Linked DNA regions of Homo sapiens: all the other regions are linked to region 3. Evidence: fine-mapped expression QTL. A gene starts in region 3. Each other region holds a variant in brackets. All regions are shown on one strand. Distances are between the middles of the regions. Region 1 holds the start of MIR4471 (microRNA 4471). Region 2 overlaps LOC124901992 (a long non-coding RNA gene). Region 3 holds the start of RNF19A (ring finger protein 19A, RBR E3 ubiquitin protein ligase).

The links.
Region 1: its variant is fine-mapped to the expression of RNF19A in monocytes after LPS (Fairfax 2014, PIP 0.95). The same link has a PIP of 0.9 or more in monocytes after Pam3CSK4.
Region 2: its variant is fine-mapped to the expression of RNF19A in neural progenitor cells (Aygun 2021, PIP 0.95).

Annotation. Positions count from the first base shown.
Region 1 is chr8:100,377,736-100,383,444 of GRCh38, forward strand. It overlaps MIR4471 (microRNA 4471), which reads left to right and starts at 5,028; the gene lies at 5,028-5,110. It overlaps LOC124901991 (a long non-coding RNA gene), which reads left to right. Exons shown (of 2, transcript XR_007061030.1): 2 at 3,911-4,189. RefSeq lists an enhancer at 4,839-4,938. The variant T/C (reference allele first, on the strand shown) is at 2,605.
Region 2 is chr8:100,500,673-100,506,381 of GRCh38, forward strand. LOC124901992 (a long non-coding RNA gene) reads left to right here. Exons shown (of 2, transcript XR_007061032.1): 2 at 90-476. Among named protein-coding and RNA genes, the nearest start is that of ANKRD46, 56 kb to the right of the region's middle. RefSeq lists a silencer at 1,128-1,197 and an enhancer at 1,837-1,996. The variant T/G (reference allele first, on the strand shown) is at 2,133.
Region 3 is chr8:100,306,359-100,312,067 of GRCh38, forward strand. It overlaps RNF19A (ring finger protein 19A, RBR E3 ubiquitin protein ligase), which reads right to left and starts at 3,595. Exons shown (of 10, transcript NM_183419.4): 1 at 3,509-3,595. RefSeq lists silencers at 2,828-2,877, 3,148-3,197, 3,248-3,337, 3,698-4,087, 3,793-3,952.

The sequences.
Region 1 (5,709 bases), 71 kb after region 3:
AAAGAGAAGCCTACACAAAATATGGCATTATTTCTGTCTCATGTGAAGGACTGGCATGGCAGATTTGCCAGGTCCCCCACCCCACTACCCCACCGCCATCCTTAGGAGAGCCTGCTTCCCATGTCCCGGGAGGCCATATCAGCAAGATGGAAGAGAGCAAAGAGCAGACACAGGGTGTCTTTAAAGGAAGGTTCCCAGAAACTTCCATGTGATACTTCTGCCCCCATGTCATTAGTCAGAAGGTAGCAACAGGTCAGGTGCGGTGGCTCATGCCTGTAATCCCAGCAGTTTGGGAGGCCAAGGCAGGCGGATCACTTGAGGTCAGGAGTTTGAGAGCAGCTTAGCCAATATGGTGAAACGCTGTCTCTACTAAAAATATAAAAATTAGCTGGGCATGGTGGTGCACGCCTATAATTCCAGCTACTTGGGAGGCTGAGACATGAGAATTGCTTGAACCCAGGAGCTGGAGGTTGCAGTGAGCCAAGATTGTGCCACTGTACTTCAGCCTGGGTGGCAGAGTGAGACTCTGTCTCAAAAAAAAAAAAAAAAAAAGAAGAAGTAGTTAGCAATAGGGCCACACCTAGCTAGCAAGGGAATCTGGAAAATGAGATTTGCTGTCTGGATTTCCACATTCCCAGCTGATAAACCAGGGATTCTGCTATGAGGGAGAAAGGAAGAATGGATATAAGGGATTTGCTGGCATTTTCTGCCATAATGTTATAAAAATCAAAGAAACAAAGATAAGAGACTATAATTTCATAATCACTGAAAATTATTCTTTGGATCTTAATGAAAAGAAAATTTTAAGTGAAGGTTGTTTCCTAGAATCTTGCCTTAAAGCTGATTACCCTTGAGACAAAATAATCCCTCACTCCCAGATAACACTGGATTTGACTCAAGTGGCCAAGGCTATCCAAGGCGGTGAGAGGGTCAGTTTGTCCAGGTCTTCATGACCCTGCCTTAGTAATCCTCTCTGAGTTGTTTCAATAGGAAAGTAAATTCCATTATCATCAAGCATTGCTAAATTCAGGGAATTGTAAACCAACAATGTGTAAGCATTGTGAAAGCTCTGTCCTTAACAGAAGTCCAGCTTTGCAGTAATGTCCACACTCCATTTCCTTGGCTCTGAAGTCAAGCAGCCAGCTTCCTTGGTGCACATCTCATCATAGGCAGCCTGGTGCATCTCTCTCCTCTACTTTCTTCCCTGACCGCCACTGCCTGCAGAATCTTCTTAAGGCACGATTGACAACATCTGACTGTGCTCCACATGTTCTCATGGTTCTCAAATGCTCACTACCTTAAAACAACTCCTTGGCCTGGCCTCCCAGATCCTCCAAAATCTTACCCACCCTCCCAATTCAACCAGATGTTCCTCTGAGATATGGCGATTGCATTCTGGGATTTTGGGGAAAATGGGAAGGCATTTTGTACTCTTCCTCCTTCACTCTGTGCCCTTTGCCTCTTGTTGCTATCACTAGTTGATTGGTGGTCCATTCACTTAAGTGACATATGGAGCTTTGTGCTTAACATAGAGATGGATTTCCAACTGGAATGCTAAGAACCCCAGAGAAGAAACATGCCTGTGTTTAAATGTATGAAATTATATTTATAATGATAAGTATATACTCACTACTAGCATGAGGAAATAAATCAATGTCCCAACCAGAAAAATTTAAAATTTTAAGTATAAACAAACCATTATTTCTTTCTTAACTTTATTAAGGATAAAGCTATCTTGATTCTGTCTTATTCCAATTGATTCTCACTTATTTTAATCCAGGAAGGCTTTGGGATTTGATTGTCATGTTCTCACTGCTCTTCCATTGCTGTTATGATTCATAACCCACTCATTCATTCATTTATTCAACAAATACTTATTCAGTGTCACTTATGGGTTGCTGAAGATACGTTAGAAAATGTTCCAGCTTTCATGGCATTTACATTCTAGAGCAGTGGGTCTTATCCACAGACGATTTTGTCACCCCTGGGGGCTGGGGGGAAATGTGGCAATTTCTGGAGATAGTTTTGATTTTCATGAGTTGGGGAGGGGCATTACTGTCATCTAGATGGTAGAGTCCTGTGATGCTGTCAATGTAGCCCCACTTTTCCACACCCCATACTGGAGCACTGTATCCCCACCCCCACACCTCAGAACTTGATATAAGCTGCTCCTGTCCTTCACCGGGTTCACAGTTAAGATGATTATCACATGATAGGCACCAAGACGCCAGGTGTCTATTCCACCTGTTCTTCAAGAGCATCCACTTCCCCAAGGGCCTCTCTGTTCCTTCTCCTGTCCCTTTGTCCCTTGGTGGTGGGGACACTGGCCTTATTTAGTGTCTGTTCTGCTCTCTATCTCAGCACCAAGTGGCCAGACATCTCCATTATGGTGTAGCCTCTCCATTGTCCTCTTACGTCTTCTTATGTGCACCCTCTGTCCACACAGGGCCCTGCTACCCATCTTGAATCTCTGTCAGACCCATATCCTGTTGCTGGGCCCTACCCCTGCTCCTCTTTGCCCTGTTTTAGACAGAAATCCAGGAATGACCCTGATTCTGCCCATTAGTCTCACTACCTCTTTCCCATATGACTCGACAGCTTACC[T/C]CTGGGAGGAAGTAGACTTCCAAGCAAGTCCCTTCCTCTGGGGACTGCAGCTCAGGTTCCGGTTTCTTAGCTCCTCTTGGCTTCTTGCTCTTTGTTGCCCCCCTACCCCTGGCCCTTACACTTAAAATGTGTTTTAGGCCTTCAAGCTTAGTCTATAAACCTGGTTATTTTATTTGTAAATATAGTGATTTTTATATAAAAATGAGAACAATTGCTTTTCTTGTTTGATTAGTGTTCAATCAACTTACAAACTTAAAAACATTAAATTTCTTCAAACTGACCATCTTTATACATGTAAAAAGATTTCCTAAAATATTTTTAACTATCTTTACAAATTTAATAACTTTGACTTTCTCAAACACTTCAAATGCCTGATGGGGCAACATTTACAAACAAAGCAAGAAAAATCCTTCAATATCTCAATGAACTCTTGTAATAATACTAGTTTATACATGTAGTAAATTAGATTCTTCTGAATATTCAAACACTTTTAAAGAACATATTCAATTATTCTGCAACTTTCAAGTGAAAATTACAAATTGAGTATTAGTTTATCATTCCAAAATAAAATCGTAAGGCTAATATGTCAGATTATCTTAATCATTTTAAGCTGCTTAAATAACAAAAACAAGCTGATTGCAATGATTACAAAACTTACTCCTAAAGCTTAACACAAAGTATTGATACTATGAGTTTGATTGGCTTCAACGTCCATTTTCTACACCTTTTCCATTGAAACAAAGTTATTTTTACAAGTCAAGGGGAGCAAGAAGGTATTTCATGCAGGCTGGAGTTATTTGTATAACTGAGATACTGATGATCAGTTAGATTGTAAAACTGGGAGTTTTTCCAGGATGGTTTTATCCGAGCAACAGATTAAACACACTGAGCTTCCTTTTATAGTTGGCTTGGTTCTGCCTACTGTGTCACCAGGGAAGGAGTGTGCTATGTGTCCCCAGAGCATTTTTCAAATTTCACCCTCATCCTATTTTTATCATAACTTCTTTCACAATTTAACACATAATTTGGGTAGGTAGAATTCTGCAGACTACCTTGGCATGTAGTCTATCTTTTTGTTAACTGAATTTTCTCTCCCTCCTCAGGTTGTAAAATTCTTTTTCTTTTGCCTTCTTATCTGTTTCATTGTTGCAGAGATTGACTAAGTCTTCATCAAATCTGTTTTTCTTTGCTTCTTGGGCACAGAGCTAGACTCCATTTCCCAGCTTCCCTTGCAGTGAGTGTGGCCATGTGACTGAATTTGGGCCAATGAAATATGAGTGGCCTGACCCCCTATCCTCTTTTGCAGGCTTGATGCAGGGCAGCAGGGCAATCTTGGAAGCTCCATATTGAAGATGGTGGAGGCACAGTTTGAAAGGAGTCTGGGTTGGAGGAGAGCTACAGGCAGATCAGGAACACCCATCTTGGATTTGACCTGAGTGAAAAATAAACTGCAATCATTATGTTAAAACACTTACATATTTGGGGGGATTTTTTGTTTATCTTGTGAAAATGCTCATTAACCTCTATTGTCATAATAAAAATCCTTAAAGTTGGTGCTAAAAATAAATGCAATTTTGAAAATTCATGTGATGTTAGTTACTACTGCATATCCTGAGTCAACGCTAGAAAACATCAAGTGAAGCAGAGGGTGTATTATGGGACAGAGTCACTCTTGGATGTTACATAAAAATCTGACTGAATTAACTCAATCTTTTTTAATAGGAACTAATGTCATGTGACTTGTGTACCTTTTTAAATAACTTTTTTAAAAAGCAACCAAGAAAACAAAAATAAGCAGCCCATTGACAATTAAATCACCTACAATATTCATGAGATTAAAATAAACCTGTTGCTCAGTTACAAATATTTGGGCTCCCATGAGCAGACAGAAATTTTCCCCCAAGGGTCCTAATAAACAGGAAATTACATGATACAATAGACTCATATCCTTAGTAGACAAAACAATGTCAACTACCCAGACTCTCCTAAAGAAACCACACACACATGTTCAAGGGAGTAATTAAAAAAATTTAAAAACATAGGTTTCTTTTTTCTTCTAAAAAGTATACTTTTCTTTAAAATGGTAAGGGTGTATTAGTGCGATGAAGATCAATAAGGCCTCCATTTTTTTTTCTAGTTTGGTTATTTCACACTCTGCTTTTGGCATTTGAGGTTGCTAAGGTTATGGGTTTCTAAAAGTATTGTCCTTATGCACAAACGGACCTGTCATCAAACAGCTTTTGACCCTATGCAGTCAGAGTTTCCCTTTCCTTCTCCCACACCAACTAATTCTGCCATGTGTGGGTTGCAAGTGCACCAGGCAACAGTTTAATCTAAATGAAGTGATCACACATTAGATTTTGAAAATGAAACTTACTCATAAATATATTTCTTTCAAAATGAATTTTGTAAATCTTTTCCTTCCAAATTTAAAACTTAAACCTCTACTAAGTTTCCATGAAAAGAACCCATGGGAACTTAGTAGAGGTTTAAGTTTTAAATTTGAAGGGAAAAGAGTTATAAAATTCATTTTGAAAGAAATATATTTATGAGTAAGTTTCATTTTCAAAATCTAATGGTGCATGCCTGTAATCCCAGCTACTCAGGAGGCTGAGGCAGGAGAATTGCTTGAACCTGGGAGGTGGAGGTTGCAGTGAGCCGAGATCACGCCACTGCACTCCAGCCTGGGAGACAGAGTGAGACTCCATCTCAGAAAAAAAAATAAAAATGAAAAACCATGGGAACAATAAATACAGACTTTAGGCAGTGCTGAAATATACGGGAGAGAGACAAAGAGGACATGGTGGATATTTAGGTAGACGTATTAGAGTAAATACTAGTAAAGCAAAATTCTTTCCATGAACTATATCTGTTAGCAAAACTCTGACTAAAAGTAAATTCCACAAATAGGGGTTTATGTTTCTCAAACAACATGAAGGTTAAAAGTACAACAATGGTGCTGATTCATCAGCTCAGTGATGTGATGCCAGAGCTAACAATTTGACAGTTCTCTTGGCCTTTCCTTATCATAACAAGATGACTGCCTCAAGAAGGCTGCTGTGGCTCCAGGCATCACACCACTTTCAAGGAAGAGGAGAAGAAGGG
Region 2 (5,709 bases), 190 kb after region 3:
GAGGATCGCTTGAGGCCAGGAATTTGAGGCCAGCCTGAGCAACATAGTGTCTCTTCAAAAAACTAAGTTTATTCTTTCCTCTTTTTTAGTTTTTATTTTACACGGCTCACTGTGGCTTTGACCTCCCATGCTGAAGCGATCCTCCTATCTCAACCTCTCAAGTAGCTGGAAGCACAGGCATGCACCACCACACCTGGCTAATTTTTTTCTTCCTTTTTTAAAGAGACAGTCTTGCCATGTTGCCCAGGCCCTGTTGACCAGGAAAAAAAAAAGTTTTTTTTCTTTTTTAAAGAAAGAAAATAAAAGAGACTGAGAAACCACAGAAATAAAGAAGCGCTGATGACAATGCCTGCTTGCTGATGGTTACGATGATCATAGCAGTGTGCATTTTGTATGCATGAAGCCTGCGACTAAATAAACGTGTGGGGAAATATTTGTAAGGAAATAAGCTATTAATAAAATAAGCTAAAATCACAGTTGCTGGACTATGACTGATTTTTCCCCTTTCTCTCATTTAAAATTAAATATTTGTATGACTTGTATAATAGAAAAATACATGTATTCAATCTTAAAAAGATATTCTTATTTTACACTTTACGGGACAAAAGAGGTTGTAGGTTGGAATGGTTCAGTCCCCTTGTGACAACTCAAAAACAGAGACCTTAAGCCTTTCTCAACCAATGTTGCGGGACAAGCAGGCGTGTGAGGCGACAATGCCATTAGGGTATTTTTTGGAAAAATTTTAGTGTGAGAGACAAAAGCCAAATTCAAACTGGCCTGAGCCAAAATAGGTAGGAAAGGGAGAAGCGGAGACAGGGAGGAAGAAAGAGAGAGAACAGAAAGAAAAAGGGAGAAATGTCGAAAGGCAAAATTACAACACATTTAGTTAAATGATTGAATTGGTTTTTATTTGTAATTCATGAATTGGGGCAGCATCTCCTCTAAAACTTTAGGAAAAGTGCTCTGATGAGCTAAACAGAGAAGCTTGGCTTTATAGGCAGAAAAGGGTGAAGAAAGCAGACACAGGGAACAAAAAGCAGATTGGTAAGCTCAGGTTACTTCAGGTTACTTTCCTTATAAAGGTTAAAGTAGAGGGGACTTCCTTATCATGCTGGCTACAACTGGCCTGTTTGGGGATTTGCATATTATCTCTCTCTGTCTTGAGTTCTGGGAAGGTCTGATGACTTAGTTTCAGTTTGGTGATATGGAACTTAGCATGAGTGACTCCATCTTGGTTTGGTCTACTGGGGCCTCCTGCAGGAGCTCAGCCCAAATCAGTGACCTCCTATAAATTTCATTTAATAGAAAAGGAAGGAAGGAAGGAAGGAAGGAAGGAAGGAAGGAAGGAAGGAAGGAAGGGAGGGAGGGAGGGAGGGAGGGAGGGAGGAAGGGAGGAAAGAAGGAAGGAAAGAAAGAAAGTTGCTTATAAGTTGCTTATAACTAAAAAGACCAGCTGGACCCAGGAGCTCTGAGGTTGCTTTCAGGCCTCTGTCCATCTCTTAGTTTTCCATCCTCAGACAGGCTCTGCCCTGCCTTACAGTCTAGCATTGTTGGCCAAAGGTGACTGACTGGCCCAGCTTGGGCTATATGTCCTTCCCTGTGGCCAGAGAGATGTGTCTCTGTGATGGCCAGGCTTGGGTCACGTACTCCCTCCCCTACCAGAATCACATGAAAAGAGGGAGGAAGAGCCGCTTTCCACCAAAGGAAACTGAAGTGCTATTGTCAGAGGGGTTGCTGGGCAGACCAAAAAGATGACAATATCTGCTCCAATCGCTCGGGTTGTTGGTGCTTGGCAGATTTGCCCCTACGTCACTTTTCAGATGTGGATAAGACTGAAGGTGACCACAGGCTTCCGAGAGGAAAGCTGCCAATGGGGGTGTGAGAGGAGGGGGAATTCTTACTCACCAAGGTTAACACTGTGCACACTGTTCTCCGAGGAAGTGGGAATTTCCACATGGTGAGTTCCCTTCCCTGTACAATGAATTACTATCTTGATGAGAAACCCGTGGGCAGCTGGTTGAGAAGAGAAAGGTATTCTCTGAATGAGAGGGAATTTACCACCTTCCTTTCAATGGTGACAGTTTTTTCTGGTGTCACCGCAGGGTGTGGATTGATTCATATACAAATATACA[T/G]ATCTACATAGATGCCATTCTGCTAGCCTCTGCAAAATGCATGCCTGGAGACCATTTCTGCTGCCTAGGAGATGTCAACTTTGTCACCACCACTCTCTCTCCACCACTCCCACACCCTGCAGGGGCCAGGTGTGTGGGTGGGGAGCTCCCCAGCTGGAGGCCAGATTAGAGGTCTCTGTGTGGTGGGGATGGGGAGGATGGGGTGGGAATGAGGTGGTAGGCCACTGGCAGTGGTCCAAGTTCCATCCAGGATCTGTCCTAGGCCTCTCCCCAGGCTGTCGCTTCCACCATTGAATTTCTAACCTGGATCTCTAAGGTTATGAATATCTCATTCCCGCATCCTGGGGTGCTCAGACATGTCTCCCCTGAGTCTCTAGCTGGGCTCGTGGCTGTGATCATTGTCCTCAGAGTTCCATCCTCCCAACAAAGGGACAGAAGAAACACAGGGCCCACTTTTCTGGATTCTGAGTTGGAGCCAAGAAATTCTATCTGCTGCTTCCTTCCTGTTGAATTATCCCCCAAGGACCCCTTAGTCCCTCCAGTCTCCTCCAGAGGCCTATAGCTGCCCCAGCTCCCCATGATGGATACCTGGCTCTTTCCTACCCAGAGGAAAACGCAGGCCCTTCCCCAGCCCTGCACTGAACTCCTGTGAGTGGCTGAGGAGATGAGGAGGTGTGAAGAGTGAGTGTGTTGGGGAGGGAGGGGTCCCCTGCCACCAGGTACCAAGGACTTCTGCCAGATCACCAGAACTGACACCTGGTTCCACCGGCCAGCTGTGAAGTGTCGGCCCTGACATCAACAGCTGACCTCCCACAGGGCCTAAGGAAACGGAATTGTGGGTAAATGAAACATTTTATTTATTTTATTTTGTTTTATTTTTATAAATTTTTGGGGAGACAGTTTTGCTATGTTGCCAAGGCTGGGCTTGATCTCCTGACCTTAAGTGATCCTCCTACCTTGGCCTCCTGTGCTGAGATTACAGGTGTGAATCACCATGCCTGGCCAAGAAGTGAATTTGTAAAAGACATGAGGAAAGGCCTGGTGGAAAGCTAACAGTGAAAAAAATTTTCAATACTTGCTATAGAAACTAAAGAAACTCACAATATTTTGCTCTCTATTGGATCATTTCCATCAACATACAAATAAATACCTGTTATTTTTTCCATCTTTAAAAAAATGCCTTCATTATAAGTGATTCAACAAATTAATAAACGAGAAGGGAAAAATCTTCTCTATAGAAGAATTCCAAATAGCATATGTAGATACTCTCCCCTCCAGGAAGCCGAGCTTAAATCCACTCTCTTTGAGAGTGGACTGGATTTAGTGACTCACTTCCAAAGAGTAGAGTATGGAAAGGGAAAATAGTAACTTTATAGGAAAGAAACCCAGCAGGTACCTTGTTAACCAAATGATGAAGGTTAACATCACCGCTGATAAGTCATGTTGCTATCATTCACCCGCTGATACGATCTCATGAGAAGGGCAATTCCCGACTGTGGTATTCTTCAAATCTATTGAGTTATAAGAAAACATGAGATAAACCCAAACTGAGGAACATTCTACAGAATACATGACCAGTATTCTTCAAAGCCCTTAAGGTCATGATAAACAAGGGAAGACTAAGAAGTGATCACAGATTGGGATGACTGAGACATGATGACAAAATGCAGAGTGATATCTTGGAACAGAAAAAAGACATTAGTGAGAAAATTCAAAAAACTCTGATTAGAGTTGATAGTTGGGCTATTAGTTTTATACCAATGTGAATTTCTTAGTTTTGACAAATATACGTGAGGGAAAGCTAGGCGAAGGGTATTCTGGAAATCTCTACCCTGTACTGTCTTTTCAACTTTTCTATGAATCTAAAGCTCTTCCAAAGATAAGTCTATTAAAAAAATAACAAAAACTTCCTCTAAAATTTAAAGACGGACAATATCAGGTGTTGATAAATCTGTGGAGAATTTGGAGCTCATACATTGCTGGTGAGAATGTGAAATTATGTAGTTATTTTGGAAAACAGTTCGGTAGTTCTTATAAAATGAAAGATACATCACTAAATGACCCAACGATTCTACTCCTTGATATCTACCCAGTAGGAAGGAAATGATGTCCGTACAAAGACTTGTATACAAATATTCATACCATTTTTCATCATAATGGCCCAAAACTAGAAACAACTCAAATGTCCATCAACAAGTAATGGGTAATCAAATTGCGGTATATATATACAATGAAATATAACTCAATATAAAGTAAGAAACTACTCATAGATACAGCAACATGGATATTTCTCAAGTATATGCTGAGCAAAAAAAGCCAGACACAGGAGCACATCCTATATGATTCAATTTATACGACATTTTAGAAAAGGCAAAACTAATCTCAGAGACAGAAAGCAGGTCTGTGGTTGCCTGGAGCTGCGGATTGGGGAGGGGATGATGGGAGAGATTGACAAAAGGAGCACAAGGAACCTTTTGGGGTGATGCTGGTAATATATATCTTGATTGTTGTGGTGGTTACATGGATGCATACATTTGTCAAAAATCATTAAACTGTATACTTCAAATTTATTATATGTAAATTATGCCTTAATAAAGTTGATTTTCTGAAAAGCTTTCTTTGATCCGTTTACCCTGCCAGCTCCCCTTTTGCAAGACTCCTGAAAGAGCTGCTGATACTCACTGTCTCCACTTCTACCCCATATGTTCTTTCTGAAGCCCACCCCAGCCAGGCTTCTATTCCCATCATGCCATGGAAACCATTCTCATCAAGGCGGCAGTGACCTCCGTGTTGCTAAATCCAATGGTTAGTTCCCATTTCCCAGTCACATTTCATTTGACCTGTCAGGAGCATTCCACACAGTTAACTCCTTTTTCTTCCTTTGGCTTCCAGGACACAGTAGTCTCTTGGTTTTCTGCCTACCTCTGATTACTCCTCCTCTGTCTTCTGTGCTGCTTCTCCTTACCTCTCCAACCCCTTCATGTCGGCTGCCTCAGGATTCCCCTTTCTGTGCTCCCTCCTCGGATGATTTCACCAAGTCCCAGGGCTGTAAATTCCGTCTATATGCTGAGAATTTCCAATATGATTGAGAAATTCTATCTCTAGCCCAGACCCTTCTCCCAAATTTTGACTCATAATTCCAAAGGCCTACTTGGCATTTCTCTTTGGTTGTTGAATAGACATCTCCAACCCAACGTGCCCCAAACCGAACTCCTGATCTTCTCCCTTAAACCTGTCCCTGCTGCAGCCTTTCCTGGGCTGGCATCTTGCAATTTGCTCAAATAAAAAAACTAGGAGTCATCCTTGACTACCCTTTCTCAGGCTCCACTAGCTCTACCTTCAAAATACATCCACAATCCATTGATCTTTCGGCATCTTCACTGCTACTACATTCAAAATCACATAGCAATTCTTCATTTTTCCCAAAATTAAAGCCAGTGCCCTGGCAATGGTCTGCAAGGCCCTAAATGATCTGCTTTCTCCTTCCCGACACCTTAGCTCTGTGAGTTCAGCTCCCAACACTCTCGCCCTTGCCCAATCTTCTCCAGATATTCAGGTCTTTTTGTAGTTTCCCCAT
Region 3 (5,709 bases):
TTTCCTAATAGGACTTCTAAAACAAATTAACAGTAATTCTTTAGTAAATGATTTATAAAATAAAATACTAGATAACATCAATAGGATAAGACTACATAATGGTTTTAAGGCTAATGGCATAGCTTTTTAAAAAAGTTATCAATAAAAATAATTCTTCAGGTGTTAATGACAGTGATAAAGAGAGCAATGCAAGCAAAACCTCCTTTATCAAGAAGTGTTACTTTTTCCACTTTGATATAGAAAGTATCACTGACATATGATAACTTTTGAGAAACAAATGAAGTACACAAGTTTTAAACACCCAAAGTGATTTCACTGCCTGTTTGGTTGAAGCCTACCACCATCTGAAATACAGGTATGTTCAGCAAGGAAATATTATCCCTTAGTCTTTAGCTGTGCAGGTACGGTTAAGTAAATGAGTTGTTTCAATGTTAGACATCTTCTATCTACTAACAGAGAACTGGCATGGCTTAAAAAAAGAAAATTCATAATTACTCCTAGTTGGAGAAAAAAAATTCCTAAGTAAAGAAAAATTTAGCTATTCTCCGTAAGTAGTAAGATGAATATTTTGATAAATAGCTTTTAAGCTGAAGTACTACTCCATATATAATCATGGGTCCTTTCAGACAATCTAAATTCAACTACCATTTTGCTATGATGTGCTAGTTTGCCAAATACAATGCAATATGCAATGAAATGTAAATTTAGAAATTCAACTTTACTTTGGGCTTTTGCCCAAGGTGGCCTAATTTTTATCTTGGCAAAGAATGTTAAAAGATCATAAGCTTATTAGTTCAGTACAAAACCAGCCTGCATTTGACAGTCAGTTTTCACTTATTAATGACATTAGAAAAACGAATAACAATTCCCTAAGATTTCCTATATAACCCGAGTAGAGAAGATATAAGTGAGCAATTCAGATGTAAATATTAATATAACAAAATTTATCTCCAGCTTACTCTGCGCCCAGCACTTGACTAGGGACTTTTACATGTTATCACAAATATTTTGCCTTCTTTTCCCTACTTGGAAATTACAGAAAACTACATATCTCAACCATCTGTGCCCTGTAGATTAAAAACGACAACAACAACAAACTATATGTGTTGGAGAAGGGGGAGAAATAATCTGAAACCAAAAAATTTCTATATAAATCTAAATAAGTGTTCAAGATACAAACTGCCGCAACAAAAAAAAAACCGTGGTGGGGAGGGGGTGTCAGAATCTTCCATAATATACAAGTGATTATTTCAAATAGTTAAAACAAAAAGTTTGCTTTTAATTACCCATATTTAATTCTAAACAACCCCATAACAAATAGTATCCTTCAATCCAACCCCAATAAAATAGAGGTGACCCAAGTGTCTTACATCCTCAACTGCAAACATACTGCTTTACGACTTCACTTACATTCAAATTTGGGAAGTGCATTTACTTTCCACCAAGATGCTAAGTATTTTATTTATTCATCCATTTTCTTGAATGAAGTATCTTTAAAAATAGGAATCTTAGCACCTCTCGTGTGTTAGGCAGAAAATAAGTTTCAGTCAAGCAAAATACATCAAAAACTCAAGAAATCACCAAAATTTGTTTAAAAATCCCAACACTGTCTGGTTGACAGTATGGACAGTTCTTTATATTAAGTCTACTGATCAACTGAGGCATCCCCTAAATGAGAAAACAAAATTTCCAGTGGCCACTATTTGGTACTAAGAATTGGGTTGTGCTTCAACTCCTAAAATGATGCTGCAGTTTTAAAAATTAATCTTACTGGAATCTCCTGGAAGCTAAGATAGTGAAAAAAATACACTAACATTAGTTGCCAACTGTAATTTTTTCCTCAAAGACACCTTGCGATGACATTAAAATATTTTCCATGGACACGTAAAATTTAAACTTCAGTTAAATTTTATACAGTAATTTAAAAAAAGAGAACATTAAGCAGGGCATTAAACTAACAAATTTTAAAAGTGTTTTTTTAGCATAATTTGGTTTATTAAGTCCCAAGACTTAATTCTAAATTTTTACCATGAAACTGTAACAAGGAAAGAACATTTGAAAATACGATCATCGCCATTTTCTAAATAGAGAAGTATTTACATTTTAACTCAATTCAGATAGTTCAGTCAGTGTTAAAGAAGCAAAAACAGGCAAACAGGGTAATGGCTTGCATTATAAACAGAAGTGGTAAAATGTGTATTAAGACGGGTAATGGCAAAACTGAAAATAAAACTTAAGGCAAACCGTCAGACTTCAAACAACCAAAACTCAATGAATCTAGGTTAAAATAAGAAAAGATATTTTAAAAAAATGAAAAGAACCATGTTCTTTAAAAAAAAAAAATGTGGAATGTAAAGATCACAATTTAAGACAACCGATCAAAGGAAAGGGCTGCTTTAAGCCTCTACTGTTTACTAACACTTAAAATTAGCATTTCTAGCCAACATCTAGGTTTGAAAATTGCAACGGCACTTAAACGCCGTCTTTTCTAACGTCACCCCAACAGAACATTCTGCAACACTGTGGACAGTAAACATTAAGCAGAGTAAAGCATCGTTCGTGTATTTATATCTCCAAGGGTCAATGGGAAAAAATTAAACGTTTCTCTCTCCCATATATAGCCTTAACCACTCTCTTCCCTCTTTTTATTTACTGCCCTTGTCGCGGGGTTAATGAACCCTAAACTTCTTTTTCTTCTTCCCATTAATGGAAATGGGAAAAAAAGAGCAACTGCAGAGTGGAACCCAGATAAGAAAAACTGAAAATTCAAAGTAGTAGTATTACTTGCCGGGCGAGGGCTGGGAACACCCTAAAGGCTTAGCACGGGGAGACAATCCCGGAAGACCCCCGTTAACACATACTTCACCCCAAGGCTACACCATTTTGGTGTGATGTGTAATTTTTGCTTTTGAAGGAGGTGGTAGCAGTCCCGGACTAACCTTCCTCCGAACACAGCTCCCCTCCCTAAGGCCCCAGGCAGCACGGCTTGCGGGGCGATGTCCCGGCTCCAAATTTGCAGCGAGGCCCGGAAATCGGTCCCGTTAGAGCCGATTTCACCCGTCAGGAATGCGTTCCGCCCCCGCCGCCTCCCCGCGGCAACCGCCCTTGGGTCTCCCCCGCTTTAGGGGCAGGAGACAGCTCGAGGGGAGCGCCGCCTCGGCCCGTCATAATATCGCCGGGCCGGCCGCCGGCCGCACAGGCACCAGGAGGACAGGGCTTGGGGCGGATCCCACGCTCCACCTCGGCCCCCGCGGCCCGGGAGACGCCCGCGCCTGGGCCGGGTAGGGGACCCGGAGCTGACCGAGGCCTGACCCCCTAAGCCGGCCACGGCCCCGAGCCCACGCTGGACACTGGAGGAGACGCCTTTCCCACCGGACTTCCGAATCCATTTCTGTCCCGGGCAGGGGCGCTAGGGCTGCGGCCCGGCCAGAGCTCCCTGGGTCGTAAGCGAGAGCCGCCCCTTCTCTCCCGCTCCGGGGCGCAAGCTCCTCCGGGTGCCCGCCCGTACCTTTAACTCCTCAGAGCGGCGGCAGCGCAGGGTGGCGGGCGAGTAGGCCCATCTCCCAGCAGCGGCGACAGCAGCCTGAGGAAGCGCGGGGGAGGGTCCCTCCGATGCGCCGAGGCGCCTCTCAACCGGGGCGGAGACGACGGAGGGGAGGAGTCCCGACGGCCGCTTTCCCGAACTCCTCCTCCGCAGTTGTGGCTCGACGGCTGCTCCCGGGAACCAGCGCCGCAACTACCACCTCCCCCTCCCGCAGCCCCCGCTTTCCCCTCCTCCTCCTCCCACTTCTTCCTCCCGCCCCCGGCCGCCCCGCCCCAGCGCGCCGCCCGCGTGCTGTGCGTCATGGCGTCACGCCCACCGGGCCCGCTGCGGGCGGCTCTGGACGCGGCTGTTCCCTTGCGCACGTTCGTTCCGCGCCCGCGCAGGAGCCGCCCCGCTGCACCCGGGTGGCCCCGACTGCGGCCCCCACGCCTGTCCCTGGCGGAGGGGACTTCGCCTCGAGCGCGCCGGGCAGTGGGGCCGGTGTCTCCCTGGCCGGTTCTCCGTGGCCCAGAGAGCGTCTCCTCCAAGGACAGGTCGGGGTGGCTGGAGCTGCGCCCGGTTGAAGGGAGTTGCCAGACTCGGCGACTCTGGCTCTTGGCAGTTTGCCCGGCATTATTCATTCCTTTGTGTTCTCAGGGTTCACCTGCTAGATTGGCAGGCCGAGGGAGAGAAGTGCCGGGATGTTGCAGCTCTCGGCGAGGAAATGTCCTTTCCCAGAGGACGGCAGCACCCTGTGCGTCTGCAGCCGCCCTCTTAGTGCACCTGTCTTTGCAGAGGCTGTTAGGAACAGTACTTAGCCACAATAGCAAGCCTACGTGAGGGTTTGGAGAGTATCTTCCATTCATCTCTTTTATTTCATTTTTTTTTTACTATTTTGCAGTCAAGTAATCAGAATTCCTATTTCATCTCTAATACATTCCTAATTACTTTAATCCAGCTTTATTTGTTCCTTCGTCTCATATCTTTTCAGCCAGTCATATCCCCTTTGAATGTTTCAATCTACACTAGTCTTGGTATTCTTAGTTGAATAAACAAATTCCGTCTGGGCCTGGTGCATTTCCTCCTGGTTTATTCTCTTCAAGATTTAGATCACTCTAACATAGAATACTGAGAAACGAATGTGATAGAGGCTGGACAGAATGTCCATTTGCCATCTGTTACTTAACTAAATATATCACTCTCCCAGTCCTTGTTTAGTGTGTCTGTGTAATTTAAATTAGAAACAAACCAAGGAGCCATGGTCTTTCCGAATGTACTTGGTATCTTTGGTAACCCAGTAAATGTTTACCAATTAGAAAATTGAACAAGCTAGGCAGTTTAGGTTTAAGTGTCTTTGGCCTCGAATCTTAAAGGAAGTAATTATGGGTATGTTTATTTTCATTTATGGGAAGTTTTAAAGCTGTTATACCTTTAAATGCTACTTGAAGGCTGCCAGCGACTTTACATATGGGATGCTTTAAGCCTACAGATAGCACAAGAATAGTAAGTTAAGTACCCATATATAATATCCTTCTTGAAAATATATCAATATGTTGGCCGGAATTGGTGGCTCACGCCTGTAATCCTAGCACTTTGGGAGGCCGAGGCGGGCGGATCACGAGGTCAGGAGATCGAGACCATCCTGGCTAACATAGTGAAACCCCGTCTCTACTAAAAATACAAAAAATTAGCTGGGCGTGGTGGCGGGCGCCTGTAGTCCCAGCTACTCGGGAGGCTGAGGCAGGAGGATGGCGTGAACCCGGGCGGCGGAGCTTGTAGTGAGCAGAGATCTCGCCACTGCACTCCAGCCTGGGCGACAGAGCGAGACTCCGTCTCAAAAAAAAAAAAAAAAAAAAAAGAAAAGAAAATAGATCAACATGTTAAACAACATTTCAGCACAGATGGGGCACTGGCTTGAAAGGGGATTTTGAATAAAGAAGCTGTGCGGAATGAAAATGGTCTTACACTCTGTACAACGGTAATATTTTCCAGAGATGCTGCTTCTGGCTTTCTTGTCTTCCTAAAAATTAGAAGGACTTTCTATTCTTCACTAGGCCAAATAAATCTATTAAAAAACAAATACCTATTGAACATCCCCAACTTGAATTCCTAGAGGCACCTCAGATTCAGGCTGTCCAAGATGTAGTTTGTTCTTTCCTCAAAGCATGCTTCTTTCATTCACCCAG